4 linked regions of the Homo sapiens genome follow. The protein of the gene in region 1 interacts with the protein of each later gene in a pairwise test. Each region holds a gene or a part of one and is shown in the gene's direction. Other genes may lie near its edges.

Region 1 (5,502 bases):
ACATGTGACTTTAGGAAATACATTTGGGGATAGGGAGGGCTAACCACACACATGCATACTAACTGGAAAGTGGACAGGGAACGCTCCGTTTGCCTAGATTAGGTAGATGGGACTTGGACAGCTGCTCTGTAGTTGATGATTGACTTTTCATTTATGTAAATAAGATTACTTCCAAAGTTAATGAGATGAATATTTGAACATGTCAGTGTGGATTGGCTTCAGGCCTGTGGAGTAAATATTTTATAGAGTGAACATTGATAGGAGAATAGGAAAAGCTGGTGAGACTCTTCACACTTGGGGCAAGGAAGAGATAATCTGATGTAAAAACAAAGAACATAGGGTCAACTGACAGCTAGCAGCATAAGTATAGGCAGGAGTAATTTTTATTAAAAGAAGGCTACCTTAGACAACTAGGGCAGGTGACCAAATAGAATGGTAAAACTGAAAGGCAGTTTTTCTGAGATAAAAACAGAGAAACTATTAATCAGTGGATCACGATTTGCCTCTAACCCATTTGTTCTCACTTTTGGGAGGTAAATGAACCACTTCTGTGGACAGAAGAGTGCCTTCTGTAAAGAAGTAAAAGGGGAAAAACATGTCTTTACCAAAAGAAAAGAATGATACAACTTGTGATAAGAAACCAACAGGGTGACCTCTCTCTGGGGGTAGAAGGAGATGTGTAGATTATTGATGCTTGGAGACTTCAGCGTGGCTGGAGATCAGTCCAGGGTCTGTGTGGAAGGCCTGGTGAATCACACAAAGGGCATTTCTACCCTCATCATTTCATAAAGTCCAAAGTGAAAGATAAGGAGAAGTTTTAAGGTTTAAAGAACCAAAAGTACCTGGAGCAAGGCCCCTCCCTCCCGTTTCCTCATGACTATTGTGCTTAGAAGAAAATCGCATTAATACATAAGCTTTCAGGAATGGAGGAGGAAATAAAGGATATTAAAGTCTGTCCTCGGCATTCATTTTTTTCCTTCTATGAGAAAACAATGATTAAATCTTGAGAGAGGGAGAGGCGTATCTGATCAGGACATCTGTTTTATAAAACTGCAAAGGTGCTTTTCAGCAAGTATTTGAGGCAATGGATCAAGCTGGCAAAGCCATAGAGATGGGATCAAAGAGTGTGCTCTCTACTGTTCTTTTCTAAAAGTACCCACTTATCGCGAGCACAAATTGCAAAGAGATGAGGTGTAAGAATTACCTAAAGGAATGAATAATGGAAGAGGTAGTCAAAATTAGAAATTTTTAAGTCTGCACGTTTGTTGAACACCAGATACTCTGAGCCCGGTGTGGGGATGTGGAGCTAAATAGGGTTCTTGCACTTAGTTGTATTCAAACACAGAATCTAAAGCCTAAACAAAAATAATGATGATAGAGGCCCCGAGAGAGGTTGGTTTTCCGCCAACCTATTAATTGTCCTTAGATTCCACTTGGAAAATGACTTCTGAAAAGAAGGGTCAAATGAATGGGTTGTACTAATTGTTCATTCTCCAGAACCATTGATTCAAAAACTATGAGAATGGAAAAATCATTCCTTATAAGGAGTACTCATAGAAGGACATAACAGGAAGAAGTGGTCTGATGTTTGAAAATTTGAAGAATTTGCCCAGTAGTCAGCACAGAGAAATTACTATATACCAAGTAAGTACAGTGTTTGGAGATGGAAAGTGTAGGAAATGCGGACAGTGGGAGGTAGCACAAAGGTGGCAATTAAAGAGGAGAAATCAAAGGGGAGATGTTTCAAAACCCGGGGACTGAGTCTAGTTAGGTTTTAGTCCAATCATAGAAAATTGTAATGAGTGTCCTGTCCATCTATGATGGCTTAAAAAGATGTCCATAAATTCTTTGGTACTCTTTGCTTCAGAAGGTGGAGCCTGACCCTCTTCCCTTCAGCATGGGCTGCACTGAGCAACTCACTTCTAATGACCAAGATGTGGCAGAAGCGATGGAGGGCAGCTTCCGAGATGGGCATTGTGGCTGCCTCTTTGCTCTCTCTTGGGTCACTTGATCTAGGGTGAGCCAGCTGTCATGTTGAGAGTACATTCAGGCAGCCCTACAGAGCCCCCTAGGGGTTCATGTGAGCAGACTGCCTTGGAAGTAGAGCCTGCATCCCCAGTCTAGCCTTCAGATGACTGCAGCCTCAGCCAGCATCCTGACTGCATGTTTCAAAAATGTGTTAAGATTCTTTGACAAGCTTAAATGTAGAGTACTCTACCATACTATCAGTACTCTAGTACTTGTTGAGGAGCAAGTGTGGCATGGTCCTTTTTCATCCAATTTCTTGAAATCTGTTCTAGAAAGCCAACCGTGGAAGGACTGCAACAGATGAGAATAGGACTGATGGAGTTGCTTTCATGGGAATCATTCCCTGGCTCCCTCTGGAGGCAGAGTTGTTTTGGGTCGGGAGTAACTCCATCTCCATCAGATGCAGGGACTGGTGGCTCACTTTGAAAGGAGGAGACCATACAGCAGTGTCCCAGCTGTCCCTTCAGGGGAAATTCCCTATGAGAGATGTCTGGAGCAGAGCCAGAGTCCTCAGGACAGAATTGGAAAAGTATCCACAGACTGGAGCTCCCTCCATCATGGGCTGCTTTGCCCATAAATGGCATTCCCATCTTTTTCTGGTGACCAAACATTTGTTGGTGGCTCCAGCACTGCCGATGTTTGTTCCAGATTTTCTTTCTTCCAGTTCTCAAACTGCATCAGAGTCCCCTGAAGGGCTTATTAAAACACACGGTGCTGGAGGTTAAAACACAGATGGCTGGGCTCCACCCCAGAATTTCTGCTACAGCAGGGTTGAGGCAGAGCCTGAGAATTTGCATTTCTTTTTTTTTTTTTTTTTTTTTAATTATTTTGAGATAGGGTCTCACTCTGTCATCTAGGCTGGAGTGCAGTGGCCCTGTCATACCTCACTGTTGCCTTGACCTCCCGGGCTCAAGTGATCCTCCCACCCTGGCCTCCCAAGTAGCTGGGACCACAGGTATGCATCACCACACCTGGCTAATTATTTTAAATTTTATGTAGAGATAGGGTCCCACTATGTTGCCCAGGCTGATCTCAAAGTCCTGGCCTCAAGTAATCCTGCCACCATGGCATCCCAAAGGGCAGGGATTACAGGTGTGAGCTTCCATGGCTGGCCCTTGAGAATATGCTTCCTAACCAGTTCTCAGAGGATGCTCATGCTGCTGGTCTTGAGAGCACACTTGGAGAACATCTTAACTAGTTCATCTTCACACTTCACTTAGAGGTGTTCAGTGGTCATATGTAACGGTGTATGTTAGTATACAGATTGTTCTTTTTCAGATTTCCTACAGAAAATCTACTTAGTTTAAATTAAAGAACACTCCCCAACTTTTAGCACTCCTGCTTGGCATAAATTGGTTCTACATCCTTAACTTTTAAAGGTTTCTGCTCAGGAGCCCACGAAATTAAAAATTACCTCTTCTGCTGCGAAAATTTTATTGCTGCAACTCATGCATGCATACAGGCACACACACACCATGATGTTAAATTAAGGAGCTTGAATTAAAAGCAAATTTCCCTTATGTAGAAAGTCATCTGTTGATCATTTGGCTTAATTAAAATTGGGTGTATCTTACATCTACCATGATTCACTCCCATACTGCCTCCACTAAAAATGATGCCACATTATCTCTAAATTGAGCCTGGCTTATAGTAAACTCTATAAGTGAGACTGCCCTTCATCTTTTCCTAAAGATACAACTTCTAGTACAGAATATTAATCATCTATAGGCTGAGGCCTAATCTGAGATTAACCTTCTGGTTTCTTCCTGGAGTTTCATCCAGGAGTATGCCCTGGGCCTCACATGGGGATGAGATGGGGCTTTTCGCCTCAAAGGTTTGTTCTTATTTGGTCTATTTGAGACAGAGGCATGCATAAATACAAACTATACTTACAATTGTTCCTTTCATTCTTTTCTGTTAACAGCTATGGCTGCTGGGTGAGCCCAGCTGCCTTGCACAATTTGAGTCTTCTCAGACACTCATTCCCCTGAGTTGTCATTGGTAGAAATGGAGTGATTCCTTGTTTTGCAAGGGTTGCACACTTCTCATCAAACATTTATTTGGGCTTTTGTGAACTCTGTAATAGACAATGGCCTAGTCCTTTGTTAACTGTCTGGAGGTCCTGCTGGGAGGTCGCAGAGCAGGGCTGAGCTGCTGGACCCTCAGAGCAGGAAGTTTCTGGGCTTTGAGAAAAGCAGAAAACTGGTCTGGGAATTCCAGGAAGAATTTCGGATGTTAGGCTGTGGTCCTGCCACTGGCCAGGCATGTCCGAGGTACCAGCCCTGCCTCGGAGAGCACATGCTCAGCTCCACATTGTCCAGAGGGCTCTCCTGCCCCCACACGCACTTATACATTCACACAGATGAACTCACACGCTACGCATACTCTCACACACTCTCAATACTCACATACTCCCTCTCACATCTGCGCACGCTCACACACTTAGAGCTGCGGTATCTCATGCTCCTCTTTCATGCAACTCTTTTTTTTGTTTGTTTTCTTTTTTTTTTTCATAGAACTTACTGCCCTGTGCAGCCATCTGTACACCTCTATTTATCTGTTCCCCACACCAGATTGTCACAGAGCATATGTCCTGCATGCACACACATGTATCCAGGGCACCGCCTGCCTGGCATGTGTTAGTAACTAATTGTTATTCATTTAATGAATTGATCAAAACTTGATATTTTTGTACAAAGAACATTTATCGTTCAGTATCTTCTTTCCTGCATGCTTTTCAGCAAATGAGATAAAAGACCAATTTTTTTTTTTTTTTTTTTTTTTTTTTTTTTTTTTTGAGATTTTTCGCTCTTGTTGCCCAGACCAGAGTGCAGTGGCGTGATCTCAGCTTACAACTTCCACCTCCCAGGTTCAAGCGATTCTCCTGCCTCAGCCTCCCAAGTAGCTGGGATTACAGGCACACTACCACCATGCCTGGCTAATTTTGTATTTTTTAGCAGAGATGAGGTTTCACCATGTTGGCCAGGCTGGTCTCAAAGTCCTGACCACAGGTGATCCACCTGCCTTGGCCTCCCAAAGTGCTGAGATTACAGGCGTGAGCTACTGCACCTGGCCAATAAAAGACACATTTTAATTAAAATAATGACATGTTTCTAAAATATTCTGAAATAGAAGGCACATCACAGAATTTAAATATTTTTCAATAAAATCTGTAATCAAACCATAGTTCAGCTTCCTCTGGGATATTGTGAACTATGTTTAAAATGCGACCGGAATTTTCCACTGCTGTTCATATTTTTAAATGCTTAGAATTAGAAAAATTAGCCAGGCATGGTGGCACATCGGGAGGCTGAGGCAGGAGAATCTGCTTGAACCTGGGAGGCGCAGGTTGCAGTGAGCCAAGATCACACCATTGCACTCTAGCCTGGGCAACAAAAGCAAAACTGCGTCTCAAAAAAAAAAAGAATTAGAAAAATTTTGATGTCTTAATTTCTAATAGGGTTAGACATCAGA
Region 2 (5,217 bases), on another chromosome or scaffold:
CTGTGTGGGCTCCTGCTCCTGCAGGGAAGACCCAGCTTGTCTGCAGTGGCTCCTGCAGGAGAAGTAGGTCTAGCTGGAGCTGACCAGGCTTCCTCCCCACAGGGCCCTCCTCCCCAGTTCAGAATGCAGCCCACAGCCACCATGGCCACAGCCGCCACCACCACCACCACCACCACTGCCACAGTAGCCCTGACGACGTCGTGGGACAATGCCACTGGACGCCCCACGGTGGGTGCAGGGGACAGGTGGGAGGGGCAGGAGGTCGTCCAGGCCAGCAGCACCTGACCCCCCCTGCACACCCGCAGGCAGAGCCAGACCCCATCCTGGACAACTACGTGCTGCTGGTGGTGGTGATGTCGCTGTTCGTGGGGGGCACGCTGGTGGTGTTGTCTGGCGTCCTGCTCCTCTGCAAGCGCTGCTGGGACGTCCACCAGCGCCTCAACAGGTGCGAGGCCCCCACCTCGGCTGGGCAGGTGCATGGTGGTTGTGGGTGCCATCGGGTGGTGGGGGGTCTACCTCACTGGCTTCTGAGTCACAGGGTGGGCTATGCCTCTGGAGACTGGGTGATGCGCAGGGCTTGGCTTGGGGCAAAGAGCCGAGACCCACTGTGGCTATCTGGGCCCTCCGTGCCACTGGGCTCTCCCAACGTCTCTCCCAGGGCCATGGAGGAAGCGGAGAAGACCACCACCACCTACCTGGACAACGGCACCCACCCAGCCCAAGGTGAGGTGCTGGCCAGCCTGGCTGTGCGCTCGCCTGTCCATCCGCCCCTCGGCCACCCGCCGCCCCCTCGGGCTGCCTGACCGTCTGTGTCTGTCTGTCTCCCCCACCAGACTGGGCGCAGCTCGATTCCGACTCATCTCTGTTTCCTTAACGCCCAGGCGTAGGTGGGCCCAGGCGCGTGCTGAGCGAGTGAGTGTGTGAGCGGATGGACGAGTGTCCCTCGCCCCGCCAGCCCGGCCGCCCGTGCCGCGGCCCCAGCCCTCCCTGCCGTGGCCGCCCGGAGGAGCAGCCCTCCCGGGACCAGGCGCCTGGCGTGGCCCGCCCGGGGCCCACCCTCTCCTGCCTCTCCACGCAGACCCCGACTTCCGGGGAGAGGACCCCGAGTGCCAGGATGCGGAGACCGAACGCTTCCTGTCCACCAGCTCCACGGGCCGCCGGGTCTCCTTCAATGAGGCGGCGCTGTTTGAGCAGAGCCGCAAGACGCAGGACAAGGGTCGCCGGTAAGCGGGGCGGCGTTGGGAGGCACCCCAGGGCCTGTCTGAGGTCCTGGCCGCCGGGACGGGGGAGGAGCTGGGTGCGGAGGCTGCAGGGACCAAGGCAGAGGCTCCTGGACTGGGACCGTGGGGTGGGGCGGCCTTGGCCAGTTGCCCCCCTTTCGCCTGCCCCTGCCCAGGCCGGCAGGGTGGATGGCAGAGCACGGCAGCTGGGGCATCGGGCATGGGAGGTGGGCGGGCTCTGATGGCCAGATGCTGTCGCAGGTACACACTGACGGAGGGGGACTTCCACCACCTGAAGAATGCCCGGCTCACGCACCTGCACCTGCCGCCCCTCAAGATTGTCACCATCCACGAGTGTGACTCAGGCGAGGCCAGCTCAGCCACCACGCCCCACCCGGCCACCTCTCCCAAGGCCACTCTGGCCATCTTCCAGGTGAGCCTATGGGCAGCAGCCCCGGTTCCTCGGGGGACGGGAGGCAGCCCCGGGGACTCCCGGACCCCCACGCCCTCACCCACTCTTTTTCTGGGTGGCCCTCATCTCGGGATGGGCGGGGTGGGGTGGAGCAGGGCAGGGGGCCAAGCCCAGCATGCTCCTCACCTGCCCATGTCCCTCACCCACCCATGCTCTTTGACCTGTCACTGCTTCCTCCCCCACCTGGCTCTGTCCCACAGCCCCCGGGGAAGGCCCTCACCGGCCGCTCTGTGGGCCCCAGCTCCGCCCTGCCAGGTGACCCCTACAACTCAGCCGCGGGCGCCACTGACTTCGCAGAGATCAGCCCCTCGGCATCTAGCGACTCTGGGGAAGGCACCTCGGTGAGGGCCCCTGCGTGTCCCCCATGGTGTCCACAGCCGGGGAGGCTCCTTCCCCTCCCTGTCCCCAGTCCAGGACCAAGGTCAACCTATGACCTGCCAGCCACCGCAGCCCTCCTTGGCCCGCCGGGTCATTGCACACGGGAGAAAGAGGGAGCCGGCCGCACACCGGACACAGGCGTGTCCTCACACATGCAGGGGGCACCCCAGGCTCCCACCTCATTTGACATTCCCTAGGTTCTGGAGAGGGTGCGCCACCCCTGCCCTCCCTCACCTGCAGCCCACGCCGTGGGCGAGAGACCTTCTAGACACGCACCTCCTTTTCTCTCCAAACCCCATATCCAGGGACCTTCCCCAGAGGGCAGAGCACCTTAGTGTAGCCCACCCAGCCACTGAGCGCCCCTCCTCCCGCTTCTGCCCCTCTCCGAGCAGGTACCCCTCTCTGTCCCAGTGATGGGGGGCCCTTGGGACTGTCTCTCAGACCTACGGCCACCTGGGGCCAGCACACGGGCCCAGGAAGAAGTCTTAGCCTGAGCGCCATCTCTGTTCCCTGCCAGTTGGATGCCGGTACCAGGAGCACCAAGGCTGGAGGGCCCGGGGCTGCAGCAGGGCCTGGGGAGGCGGGCCCGGGATCCGGGGCAGGTACCGTTCTGCAGTTCCTCACCCGCCTGCGCCGCCATGCCAGCCTGGATGGGGCCAGCCCCTATTTCAAGGTCAAGAAGTGGAAGCTGGAGCCCAGCCAGCGGGCAGCCAGTCTGGACACGAGAGGTGAGCTGTAGCACCTGGTGGAGAGTGGGCCCCTGTGGGCTGGGTGCTGGCTGCCAGGGGCTGCCCTGGACATCCAGGAGCAGGAGGTTGTGGGCTGGGTGGGGAGCCGGTGCTCTGGGGCTGAGTCCTGCCCAGTCTGCCAGCGGGCGTGCTGCCTGAGGTTCTGCAGGTGGCTGGGAGGGCTGAGTGTGCGGGCGGCCTGAGCCAGACCCACCCAGCTCCGGGAACCTGTGCGGGAAGGCTTTGCGCGCCCCGACTGCTCTCGGGCCATTGGGGCATCCAGGATGAGGTGGTAAAGGAGGGTGTCGGGGGCCACCTGGTCACTGTGGAGCGCAGAGGGTGGGGCCTGTGGCCTGCATCCCCTCCCAGCCATGCTCGGCTCTCATCCCTGGGAATGTGAGTGGAAGGCGGGTTCCCCCGGGGCCCCTCCCTCGCCCGCTGGCAGACCATCAGCTGCTGTGTGACCTTGGCCGAGGCCCTCTGCCTGTCTGGGCTCTGACTTCCTCTAACACGAAGTAAGTGTTGGACTGGGCCAGGGGTCAGCAGACTTTTCCCATCAGGCCCCGGATGGTGGTGTTCGTGGGGTTATGGTCAGAGAGGCTGTGTCTCCACAACTCTGCTGCTGTTGAGGCGAGGAAGCAGTCAGAGGCGCTGCATGACGAATGCACGTGGCTGTGTGCCAGTAAAACTTACCGAAGCTCCGGGGCAGGGGGTGCTTTTGCCCTCTGGGCTGTAGCACATAGATCCCTGGACTGTTTGACAGTAGCCCTTCAATTCTGCAGGCCTTGGGTCAGGCAGGATCCTGGAGACAGGGCTGCCTTATCTGGGCTCGAGGCAGGAGTTTGTGTGGGGAGCAGAGGTGTCCCATCTGTAGCACTGGCAGCAGGCACCAGCCCTGCTCAGCCAGCTCAGCAGGGCCAGGGCAGCCCAGAGGGGCTGGGGCCCGCTCTGCCTTGTGGACAGGGTGGCAGGTCCTGTCGTCAGGTGAGGCCAGGATAGGGGACAAGTGCAGAGAGAAGGTGCTGTCAGCATGACAGAGGACACATCATCAGACAGTGGGAGACCCTGTGTTGTGGCTCCAGCCAGCGGGGGTGGGGTGAGTTCTCCCAGCCCCCACCCCCAAGGTAGCTAGGGGCCAGGGAGGGGAAGGCCTCCTCTGGCTGCCCCGCTCCAGCTGAGAGAATCCAGATCTTGAAATGAATGGGGCCCAGGGGTGACTAGAGACATTTAGAGTCCAATGTGGTTGCAGCACATCCCAGAACCTGTTTGCTGGGGCCTGCCCACTCAAGCTTTGCTGGGGAGGCTGTTGGGAGAAGGGGGCCGAGGCAGGGGTGGGGCAGTCCCCCAGCGCTCTCCAGACCAGGGTGGAGCTGGCAGGAGAGGGCACCTCTCTCCCTCTCCTCGTTGGCCCCCACCAGCCTGTATGTGACTCTCTCATGCCTTCCGTAGTTTCAGCCAGGCTGTGCAGGCCACCAGGTGTCCAGGACACGCCCTTATGAGTGGCCACATGTTGACCAGGGCTGCCACAAGGCACTATCGGTGCCAGAGGCCCTTCCACTCACTCGCTTCCTGGCCCTGCCCTGCTCAGGCTCTCTGGTCCCAGCACCTCTTCCCTCCGTGCCTCAGTTTTCTCACCTGTACTCCAGGGTGTACACACAGCCACTGTCCGCACCCACCTGACCCGGGGAGATGCCAGCCAGGGTCTGGCCCAAGCCAGGGCCCACTCCTGTGTGTGTGAGACAGAGACAGGGCACACGCGTTGTGTGTGTGTGGGGGCCACAGGTGTTCTGTGTGTAGGAGGGTACAGGCATTCTGTGGGGGGGGCACAGGCATGGGGGGTGCACAGGCGTTCTGTGGGGGGGGCACAGGCGTGTGTGTGTGAGGGGGCCACAGGCGTTCTGTGGTGGGGGGCACAGGCGTTCTATGTGTGTGTATGGGGGCCACAGGCGTTCTGTGTGTGGGGGGGGCCCAGGCGTTGTATGTGTGGGGGGCACACGTTGTGTGTGTGTGGTGGGGGTCCACAGGCGTTGTGTGTGGCGGGGGGGCACAGGCATTGTGTGTGTGTGGCGGGGGGGCATAGGCATTCTGTGTGTGTGTGGAGCGGGTGGAGGCACATGCCGGCTGACGCTTACGGCACATCCCGTGCGCAGGTTCCCCCAAGCGGCACCACTTCCAGCGGCAGCGGGCAGCCAGTGAGAGCACGGAGCAGGAGGAGGGGGATGCCCCCCAGGAGGACTTCATCCAGTACATTGCCCGGGCGGGCGACGCCGTGGCCTTCCCGCACCCCCGCCCCTTTCTGGCCAGCCCGCCCCCTGCTCTCGGCAGGTATTTTTCAGTAGATGGAGGTGCTAGGGGTGGACCTGTGGGCCCTTGCCCCCCTTCGCCCCCCCCTAGGCGGCCCAGGGAGCGCTCTCCAGGC
Region 3 (5,217 bases), on another chromosome or scaffold:
AAGGAGGTAGTTCACAGGAAAGGACAAAGTGATGTAAGGGAAGATGCAACATAAAAACTGGAAAGAAGCCATTTAATGTAAAGCAAATATCCTTATACATTTCAAGGCTGTTTTCTGGCCTAGGATAATATTTGATTTTCATAATTCATGCCCGTGAGTCCCTAAGAAAAAATTAAATTATGTTTAATTTTATATTCCATTTAAGAAGAGGGAAGCTTAGAATACATTTCACAAGTTTCCATCGAAAATAGTTAAAATAACAATTGATGTATTAGATAATAAAATCTGAATTACTTAGAAAACTTGGCTATCCAAAATGTTTCTAGATAATGGAGATTTTCACTTTGGTGCTATTATTAGTACTGAAAGTGCTTGAGAATATAGCAATGAAAGTAAACTGCAGGGATCCACATGGCTCAGGGCTGGATATCTTCCTGACCTTTTCCTCACAAAAATGTACTTCCTTTTTTTATTTTTTTGAAACAGAGTCTTGCTCTGTCACCCAGGCTGGAGTGCAGTGGTGCGATCTTGGCTCACTACAAACTCCACCTCCCAGGTTCAAGCAATTCTTGTACCTCAGCCACCAAAGCCGCTGGGATTACAGGCGAGTGCCATCATGCCTGGCTAATTTTTGTATTATTTTTAGTAGAAATGGGGTTTTGCCATGTTGGCCAGGCTGGCCTTGAACTTCTGGCCTCAAGTGATCCACCCGCCTCGGCCTCCCAAAGTGCTGGGATTACAGGTGTGAGCCACCATACCCAGCCAGTACATCTGTTTTTTGTGAGATTTTTCCTAGTAGAACATAATTCTGTTTTGTATTAGGTAATTACCACAAACCTATAATTCACTTTATATCAATTTCCTCTTTCTCATTTTATTGCTTTCTTAATGATGCAAGGTTTTTTACTCCTTAGCTGAGCTAGGTCCAGGTTCTTGTCTCACGATGAGGAAGAATTAGGCACACAGATACTCTAAGAGTGAATGGAGTAGAATTTATTAAGTGAAAGGAAAGCTCTCAGCCAAGAGAGGGGTCCTGAAAGCAGGTTCCAGGTTGCCCCGTCACAGTTGAATACAAGGGCATATATATATATATATATATATATATATATATATAGAGAGAGAGAGAGAGAGAGAGAGAGAGAGAGAGAGAGAGGAGAGAGAGGAGAGAGAGGAGAGAGAGAGAGAGAGAGAGAGAGACGCTGATGGGGCTGGGTTCCCTATTTGTATGAGGCACAGATTACTGGTGGCTTCACCACATTTCCCTAGTGCACATGCAGGCCCTTAGTCTGCTGTGGGCATGTTTAAGCAAGCCCCCTGTGCAAGTTCCCTTATCTGCACAAAGCATCTGGTGTAAGCCCTTGTGGGGTGGGTCAGAGGTTCTCTGGGGACCCTTCCCTTACTGTCTGCCTAAAGCAAGCTAGCTAACTCCTTTCATTAACAACCACTGGGATTCTGAATACCTAAGGGATCTCTTCCCCTGGCTTTTCTCTTATGGAATATAGTCAGTTCTTATTGCCAAGATTAGTCTTTTCCATCTCTGTATCTACACCTAGCATTTGTATCCCTACCAATTGTTGAATAAATGAGTAACTTTATACCTGCTTTTTCTTCCATTTGGGATGCTTCCCTTATCTGCCAGAGAAACTGTCTCTGGAAGTATCTTGATCACCAAATAACTTTTGACACCTGAAAGTGAGGTGCTTCTATCTCTGCTGTGTTGCTCTTACCTTATATTAAGAGCTGCCTGTTATTGGGCTCCTCTGTATGAGGTGCACTTCAAGGCTCTTTTCTTGCTTCTTTTAGAGACAGATGTTTTTATTCCTATTTTACAGATAAGGAAATTGATACCAAGGTCTCACAGTGAATAGAACAAATATTAGGACTTATCTATTAAATTGCTTTAAATATTTGCTTAAATGTCTGGTTCTCCCTCTGCTCAAAATTCAGTAATGGCAGGGATCTTCTTCAAGTTATTTTGGCTTACTCTTTTCAGTAATAAGAACTTACACAACTAGAGGAATACAGTGATTTTAGATTTATGATTTTTTTTTTTCAGAAGTTGTAACAAGAGGGTGTAAAAGATCTCCTAAATTTCTGAATCTATATCTTGGGCATCCCTGGGACAGATAATCTTCTAGGTCTTTGATGAATCTTGGGTTCTGCTACTTGGCCTAAAATTTATTTCTAGCTAATATAAATGCTGATTATATATAAATGCTGATTATATATAAATGCTACAGTCTACATATAAATGCTTTCAGATTGACAGGCATATTATTTGCATATACCTTTACATCATAATCTTCTCTAACCCTCATCAGGTGGACAGATATAGATAAAGCAAGTAATTTCCATTTTAGACACAAATCATTTAACAGAAAGTAGTAGAACAAGGTTTAAAAGCAGGCTTCCCAGGGTATCTCTTTTTTTTTCCCCACTTTGTCATGGCTGGGTGACTTTAGATAGGGTTTAAAGTTTAAAATACAGTTGGCCCTTGAACAGTGTAGGGGTAAGGGGCACAGATCCTCAGTGAAGCCAGAAATTTGCATATAACTTTTGACTCCCCCAAAACTTAACTGCCTATAGCCTACTATTGACCAGAAGCCTTACCGAGAACATAAACTGTTGCTTAACATGTATATTTTATGTTGTATGTGTAGTAGTATACTGTATTCCTACAATAAGGTAAGCTAGAGAAAAGAATATGTTATTAAGAAAACCATAAGAAAAAATATACTTACTGTTCATTAATTGGAAGTGGATCATCATAAAAGTCTTCATCCTCGTTATCTTCACATTGAGCAGACCAAAGAGGAGAAGGAAAAGGAGGAGTTTGTCTTGCTGTCTCAGGAGTAGCAGAGGCAGAGAGGTGGAGGAGGTAGAAGTAGTAGAGGTGGGCACACTGGTGTAACTTTACAAAAACACATCTTGATTTCTGACTTTTTTGCTTCTTCATTTCTCTAAAAATGTTTTTATATGGTACCAATCCTCCTTTTATTTGCTTTAGTTTTGGTACTGTATCATAGAAGGGTTCACGTTGTAAAATAAATCAAAAGTAGTCTTGAATAATTGGAACGCTTTTGCCAGATTCTCTAATGTCAATTTGTTTTCTGACACCACTTCTTCTATGTCTTCTTTTTTTTTTTTTTGGATTCCATTTTTTAAAATCGGAGATCTGCTTCTTTACTTTCTTTCTTATTTATTATGATACTTTAAGTTCTATGGTACATGTGCATAGTGTGCAGGTTTGTTACATAGGTATACATGTGCCATGGTGGTTTGCTGCACCCATCAACTCGTCATTTACATTAGGTATTTTTTCCTAATGCTATCCCTCCCCCAGCCCCCGACCCTCCGACAGACCCGGGTATGTGATGTTCCCCACCATGTGTCCATGTGTTCATGTTGTTCAATTCCCACCTAGGAGTGAGAACATCTGGTGTTTGGTTTTCCAACCTTGTGATAGTTTTTTTAGAATGATGGTTTCCAGCTTTATACATGTCCCTGCAAAGGACATGAACTCATCCTTTTTTATGGCTACATAGTATTCCATGGTGTATATGTACCACATTTTCTTAATCCAGTCTATCATTGATGGACATTTGGGTTGGTTCCAAGTCTTTACTATTGTAAATAGTGCCACAATAAACATACATGTGCATTTGTCTTTATAGTAGCATGATTTATAATCCTTTGGGTATGTACCCAGTAATGGGATCGCTGGATCAAATGGTATTTCTAGTTCTAGATCCTTGAGGAATTGCCACACTGTCTTCCACAATGGTTGAACTGACTTACACTCTCACCAATAGTGTAAAAGTGTTCCTATTTCTCCACATCCTCTCCAGCATCTGTTGTTTCCTGACTTTTTAATGATCACCATTCTAACTGGCATGAGATGGTATCTCCTTGTGGTTTTGATTTGCATTTCTCTGATGACCAGGGATGATGAGCATTTTTTCATATGTCTGTTGGCTGTGTAAATGTCTTCTTTTGGGAAGTGCCTGTTCATATCCTTTGTCCACTTTTTGATCGGGTTGTTTTTTTTCTTATAAATTTGTTTAAGTTCTTTGTAGATTCTGGATATTAAGCCTTTGTCAGATGGGTAGATTGCAAGGATTTTCTCCCATTCTGTAGGTTGCCTGTTCACTCTGATGGTAGTTGCTTTTGCTGTGCAGAGGCTCTTTAGTTTATTTAGATCCCATGTGTCTATTTTGGCTTTCTTGCCATTGCTTTTGGTGTTTTAGTCATGAAGTGTTTGCCCATGCCTATGTCCTGAATGGTATTGCCTAGGTTTTCTTCTAGGGTTTTTATGGTGTTAGGTCTTACATTTAAATCTTTAATCCATCTTGAGTTAATTTTTGTATACGGTGTAAAGAAGGGATCTAGTTTCAGCTTTCTTCATATGGCTAGCCAGTTTTCCCAGCACCATTTATTAAATAGGGAATCCTTTCCCCATTTCTTGTTTTTGTCAGGTTTGTCAAAGATCAGATGGTTGTAGATGTGTGGTGTTATTTCTGAGGGCTCTGTTCTGTTCCATTGGTCTATATCTCTGTTTTGGTACCAGTACCATGCTGTTTTGGTTACTGTAGCCTTGTAGTGTAGTTTGAAGTCATGTAGCGTGATGCCTCCAGCTTTGTTCTTTTGGCTTAGGATTGTCTTGGCTATGCAGGCTCTTTTTTTGTTCCATATGAACTTTAAAGTAGTTTTTTCCAATTCTGTGAAGAAAGTCATTGGTAGCTTGATGGGGATAGCATTGAATCTATAAATTACCTTGGGTAGTATGGCCATTTTCACGGTATTGATTCTTCCTATCCATGAACATGGAATGTTCTTCCATTTGTTTGTGTCCTCTTTTATTTCGTTGAGCAGTGGTTTGTAGTTCTCCTTGAAGAGGTCCTTCACATCCCTTGTAAGTTGGATTCCTAGGTATTTTATTCTCTTTGTAGTAATTGTGAATGGGAGTTCACTCATGATTTGGCTGTTTGTCTGTTATTGGTGTATAAGAATGCTTGTGATTTTTGCACATTGATTTTGTATCCTGAGACTTCGCTGAAGTTGCGTATCAGCTTAAGGAGATTTTGAGCTGAGACAATGGGGTTTTCTAAATATACAATCATGTCATCTGAAAACAAGAGACAATTTGACTTCCCCTTTTCCTAATTGAATACCCTTTATTTCTTTCTCTTCTTGCCTGATTGCTCTAGCCTTCCAACA
Region 4 (5,217 bases), on another chromosome or scaffold:
GCTTTTCTGATTTTTTTCTCATTTGGATACACTATTTCAGTGGAAAAATCTGGAACTCAAGGGCAGCTGTTCAGATTCTTTTGTCCCACAGGGTGAACCCTTGATGTGGTACCCTCCCCCTTTCCCTAGGAGCCAGATTGTGGTGATTGTTCTTGCTATTCTAGGTCTAGCCACTCAGCAGGGCTACCAGGCTATTGGCTGGTTCTGGGGAATGTCTGCCGAGTCCTGTGATGCAATTTGTCTTCGGGTCTACCAGCCGTGGATACCAGCACCTGTTCTGATGGAGGTGGCAGGGGAGTCAGGTAGACTCTGTGAGAGTCCTTGGTTGTAAATATGTTTACTGTGTTGTCTTTCTTGAATGCTGGTTATGCTAGCAGCGAAGTTGTCATGTGGACAGACTCGGGACCACTGGTTAGCCAGGATGTTTCAGGCAGTGGAATTAGCTGCTGTTTTTTCCTTCATTAGAGCAGGGTTGTTCTGTTATGAGTTGCTATAATGTTCTGAGTTGGTTAACCTTGAGCCAGGAGGTGGTGCTTTTGAGAGTGCGCCAGCCAGCTGCAATAGTAGAGGGGGATATAAGCTTGCTCTAATTTGGCCAGGACAAGTATTCAGGCTTCTCAGGTGATGGATGGGATCATAAAGCTCCCAAGAGTTTATGTCTTTTGTGATTCACTATTGGACCGGGTAGAGAAATACTATCAGGTGCAGGCAGGATTAGGTAGGTTTGAGCTCAGACTCTCCTTGGGTGGGGGTTGCTGTGGCCACTGTGGGGAGATCAGGGGATGGTTCTTGGGCCAATGGAGTTATGTTCCAGAGGGAATTATGGCTGCCTCTGTCACCAGGGAAGTGGGCGAAAGCTGGTAGCAACAGGCCTCACCCAGCTCCCACACAGTTGGCAAGGCCAGTCTCACTCCCACCGTGCCCTGCTAACCGTGCCAAGTTTATCTCTAGGCAGCCTGCAGCCTGGGACTCAGATCTAGTCCCAGGCTCTAAGTTTCCCCACTGAGGAAGCAAGCACTGCTTTCAGGCCACACCTTTGCCAATCTGCCACACTGTCAGCCGCATCTCCACTGTGCTTTCTGCAACAGTTCCTGTTTGCCCCCAGATTCTTCTCAAGAGGGTTTGCACCCAGTCAAAATTATTACAAAGTTCAGTTGGAAGCTTCTTTCACCCTGTGACCCCTCTCAAATTCTGCCAGTTGCCTTCCCCGAGGGCTCTTGTGAGATAGAGTCAGGGATGGCTTCCCTGGGCTTGAGCTGGAGAATGGGACTGCCTACAAGGCTTGTCCCACTGCTGCTTCTACTTTTACATTTCACAGCAAATCAATTTCAGCTCTAGGTAAGGCTAAATTCTTCTCCCGTAATCTGGATTTTTCAGGTTCCTCAGTGGGGACGTGTGCTTGGAAGCAGATGTGTCCCCTCTCAGACTTTGGGAACTTACGAATTTTCACCTGTCTTGCAGAATTTGCAATAGCCTGCCACTTCTTTCAAAGGATCTGTGATTTCTTTTGTTTTTCCTGGTATGCTCCTGCAGTTGTTCCTGGAGCAAACGACCACAGAGTGAGTGTCCACACGCTGTTCTGTCCATCCAAGTGGGAGCTACTTATCAGCCCTGTCCCCTATCTGCCATCTTCCCTCTCTTTCAATATGCTTTTTTAATATTATGATTTTGAATTCCTTTTCTGGCATTTCATCAATTTTTTTGTTGCAATCTGTTGCTGGAGAATTGTATTCCTTTGGAGGAGTCATATTTTCTTGCATTTTTATGTTTCTTGTGTTCCTATGCCAATATCTCTGCATCTGGTGTAACAGTCACTTCTTCCAATTTTTGAATTGGCCTTCATAGGAAAGACTTCTTCCTACATATGTATCTATAGTGATAGTTGGGTAGGGCACTTTAGCTTTGATACTGGAGCATACAGTAATTGCGTGTCCATGATTTTTTGGCTGTAATTACTATCAGTGGTGTCTATGAATTCCTTAGTGACTTAAACTGCAGTTGTTATTGGAAGCTGTGGTGAGGCTTTGCTGGGGATGGGGACACAAGGTGAGCTGGTCTTCAGGCCTCAGTGGTGGCAGCAGTAGACTGAGCCTGCCTGTCCTTGGGACCCCAGGTAGCATACGTGGGCACTGGTGTTAGCAGGTCCAGGCAGACCAATCTTTGGACCTCCAGATGGCTTGCTCAGGTGCCAGCAGTGGCGATGGTGGGTGGCTCTTCAGGTTCCTGGGTGGCATGCATGGGGTTGCCAATAACATTGATGGTGGTAGACCAACCCTCTGGCTCCTAGGCAGTATCCATAGGGTACTAGTGGTGGCAGTAGTGAGCTGGGCGGCCCCATCCTTAGTCCCCTAGGAGGAGTATGTGGACGCTGCAGATGCTGGTGGTGGTGGGTCAATCTCCAAGTCCATGGATGATGTATGCAGGTACCAATAGGCTGAGCAGACTCACCCTCAGGCACCTGGTAGGGGTGGGTAGAAGCTGACCACAGGCAGGGTGAGCTGACCACAGGCAGGGTGGGTTGATCCCCAGGCCCCAACAATGCACAGAAGCACTGGTGGGCATGACACCACATGGGTCAAGCCTGTCATCAGCTTCCCAATGGTGGGCACAAGCACAGGCTGTGATGGTCAGGGCTGCTCAATCTCCAGGCTCCCAGTCAGTGTCCATTGGTGCCAGCAGGGTGGGTGGCCCTGTCCTCAGGCCCAGTGAGGGTTTGCATGGGTTTCTGTGGCAGGGGTCAGGGCAGCTCATAAGGGTCTTTTTTTTTCTTTTCATTATACAATGCTATATAAAAATAAAGGTCTTTAAAAATTGTTGTTGTTGGGTTTTTTGTTATTGCTATTAATATATTCAGATTGACAATCAGTAGTTTAGGCCACTTGGTATCACTCTTTTTTTTTTTTTTTTTTTTTTTTTTTTGAGACAGGATCTCTCTGTCGCCCAGGCTATAGTGCAGTAGCTTGATCAAAGCTCTCTACAGCCTTGACTTCCTGGGTACAAGTGACCCTCTCACCTCAGCCTCCTGAGTATATGGGATGACAGGCATGTACCACCATACCCAGATAATTTTTTTTATTTGTAGAGGTGAGGTATTATGTTTCCCAGACTGGTCTTGAACTCCTAGGCTCAAGCAATCCTCCTGCCTTGGCCTCTCAAAGTATTGGCATTACAGGTGTGAGCCACTGCCCCTGTCTTCTTTTTTAAGTAATATCTACTTATGGTATCATATATTATAAATCTAGTTGTTGTCTTTCATCTAGATAGCAGTTAGCCTCCTAAAACTCGGGCTTTCATCCTTCAACTCTCTTGAGTAAAATAAGCATTTAGTATCTTGTACCTCCCACATATAACAGTTTTAAAATTCATACCAGAGGAGACACATGTGTGTACAAGTCAACAGCCTTATTGATCCCAGAGTCTTATGAGAAGACATAGCATGCACAGGAAAACTTCTAATACAAAAAGAGCACCTGGTATTAAGTGAAGTTACCATGCCAGTTAAGCAACTGGCGTATGAACTCATTTAATTCTCACAATAGCGTGAGGAGGTCGATGTACTATTCATATCTCTATTTTACAGATGAGGAAAGCACAGAGAGGTTAAGCAACATGGGCAAGCTATTTAATAGGAAGGAGCAGAGCTTTGTACGTTTTGGGAAAAATGGGTCCAAAAATATAAATATTAAGGCTATTGATACATATTTGGAAATTATTTTAGAAAAAGAAGTGGCTCTTCTCGCATTCCTAAAAGATTCTAATGTTCAGATGGGGAATGAGTGTATAGCCTAGTCAGCAAATATGTACTGATGGCTGTTTTCTGGAGGCTTTTGTTATATGAATGATGGATATACTGGAAGGTACTGCCAAGAAGCTGCTTCTCTGAGATCTTCGTACAGAGACTAATGTCACTATGAGCATGTAGTTCTGGGATCTAGACCTGCATTGCTTTGTATATTTAGTAGTGGATTGCATTTGTACAGCTTTGCTGGTGTGGGCTCTACTTTACTTCTGGAGCCAGTGGATTTTTATCAAGTTAAGCATTTTACCTGCACTAGCATTCCATTCTTTACCTAATTTAGTTGTGTAGCAAACCTGTTGAGCATCACAGTTGTGGATTCTTTGGCAGAAGTAAAACCAGTTTATGTTTCAGTAAAACTAACACTGAAAGCTCTTTCTATTCCTATGTCCTTTGAGAGTTTGATTCACAATTTCCTTGTTATTGCTCCTTCATAAAACACTGAGTAGAAAGGAGGCTTCTTAGGACAGAGGGGACTTGTTCCTTTTTTATTTTTTAACAAAAAAAAGAACCTCTGAGAATCCTGTCCCCTACGATGTGGTCAAAACTAAGCCATGGTGTGGTGTGCCCATATCCATAAACTTGTGTATCTCCATACCTAACAACACTGCTGGGCTCAAGGGAAAAGAATACTGTTTGTGGAATGAATCCATTGTCACGTAGATAACCCTAAGCAGGGAAGGCAGCTTATGCTTCCGTAAGGCTTAGCAAAGTCTTCTCATGTGAGAGCTAGCAAATAATTTGAAGATCCAAAATATCAGGGTCCATTTTGAAAGCTGGGGCAATAGCGGAGGGGATGTCGAAAGTCCTAGTGTATAAAGGGTGGGTCACTTGAGGTGCAGTCCAAAGTCCATGAATAAACAGAGGTTAGGGGCAGAGGAAAGAAGGCACCTGAGGTAGCCCCTGTTTTCCTTATTTGGTTATTTGTCTGTAGCTACCCCACCCTCATTGCCCTCCCCACCACACTCCCCCACCTCCCACCAAAAAAAAGGAAGAATAGAAACTTTTGAACCCATGTGGGGATTTCACAATCATGTCTTTTTTTCTTGGTAATGTTCTGCTTTGACATAATAACAAATCTGTTTATGTTTGCAAAGGATTAGCTATGGACCCTGCTTCTGGAGCAAAACTCAGACAAGGATTTAGTAAATCTTCTAAAAAAGATTAACTCCTAGAAGCCAGGTAAGAAAAAAAAATCACCGCTAATCCAGCTGTTGCTGACCAGTTAATGACTTTTAAGAGAATGGATGCATAGTAAGCAAACTGAAGAGACATCTGGACAAACTCCAAGTTGGGTTAACAAAATGTATGCTCTTGAAACTGACTCTGCTGTTAAACATACAGTTTAAAGAGGATATTCAGTTTTTGATTCATGACTTAATAGGAAAGGGGAATGATCCCTCACTTTTGACCTGAAAGGT

Evidence for each region.
Region 2: the proteins of NCK2 (region 1) and CBARP interact in binary tests that used the Homo sapiens proteins (3 or more experiments, as listed by UniProt).
Region 3: the proteins of NCK2 (region 1) and WASF1 interact in binary tests that used the Homo sapiens proteins (3 or more experiments, as listed by UniProt).
Region 4: the proteins of NCK2 (region 1) and ZC2HC1B interact in binary tests that used the Homo sapiens proteins (3 or more experiments, as listed by UniProt).

What each region holds. Positions count from the first base shown.
Region 1 is NC_000002.12:105,886,744-105,892,245, forward strand, and holds part of NCK2 (cytoplasmic protein NCK2), read left to right. Parts: intron 1-5,502. UniProt on the Homo sapiens protein: Adapter protein which associates with tyrosine-phosphorylated growth factor receptors or their cellular substrates. Maintains low levels of EIF2S1 phosphorylation by promoting its dephosphorylation by PP1.
Region 2 is NC_000019.10:1,231,007-1,236,223, reverse strand, and holds part of CBARP (voltage-dependent calcium channel beta subunit-associated regulatory protein), read left to right. Parts: intron 1-102; coding exon of another isoform or gene 103-123; coding exon 124-228; intron 229-305; coding exon 306-445; intron 446-658; coding exon 659-723; intron 724-833; exon of another isoform or gene 834-912; intron 913-1,078; coding exon 1,079-1,223; intron 1,224-1,481; coding exon 1,482-1,653; intron 1,654-1,892; coding exon 1,893-2,033; intron 2,034-2,587; coding exon 2,588-2,798; intron 2,799-4,948; coding exon 4,949-5,123; coding exon of another isoform or gene 5,124-5,217. UniProt on the Homo sapiens protein: Negatively regulates voltage-gated calcium channels by preventing the interaction between their alpha and beta subunits. Thereby, negatively regulates calcium channels activity at the plasma membrane and indirectly inhibits calcium-regulated exocytosis.
Region 3 is NC_000006.12:110,120,172-110,125,388, reverse strand, and holds part of WASF1 (actin-binding protein WASF1), read left to right. Parts: intron 1-5,217.
Region 4 is NC_000006.12:143,932,756-143,937,972, forward strand, and holds part of ZC2HC1B (zinc finger C2HC domain-containing protein 1B), read left to right. Parts: intron 1-4,893; coding exon 4,894-4,964; 3' UTR 4,965-4,978; intron 4,979-5,217.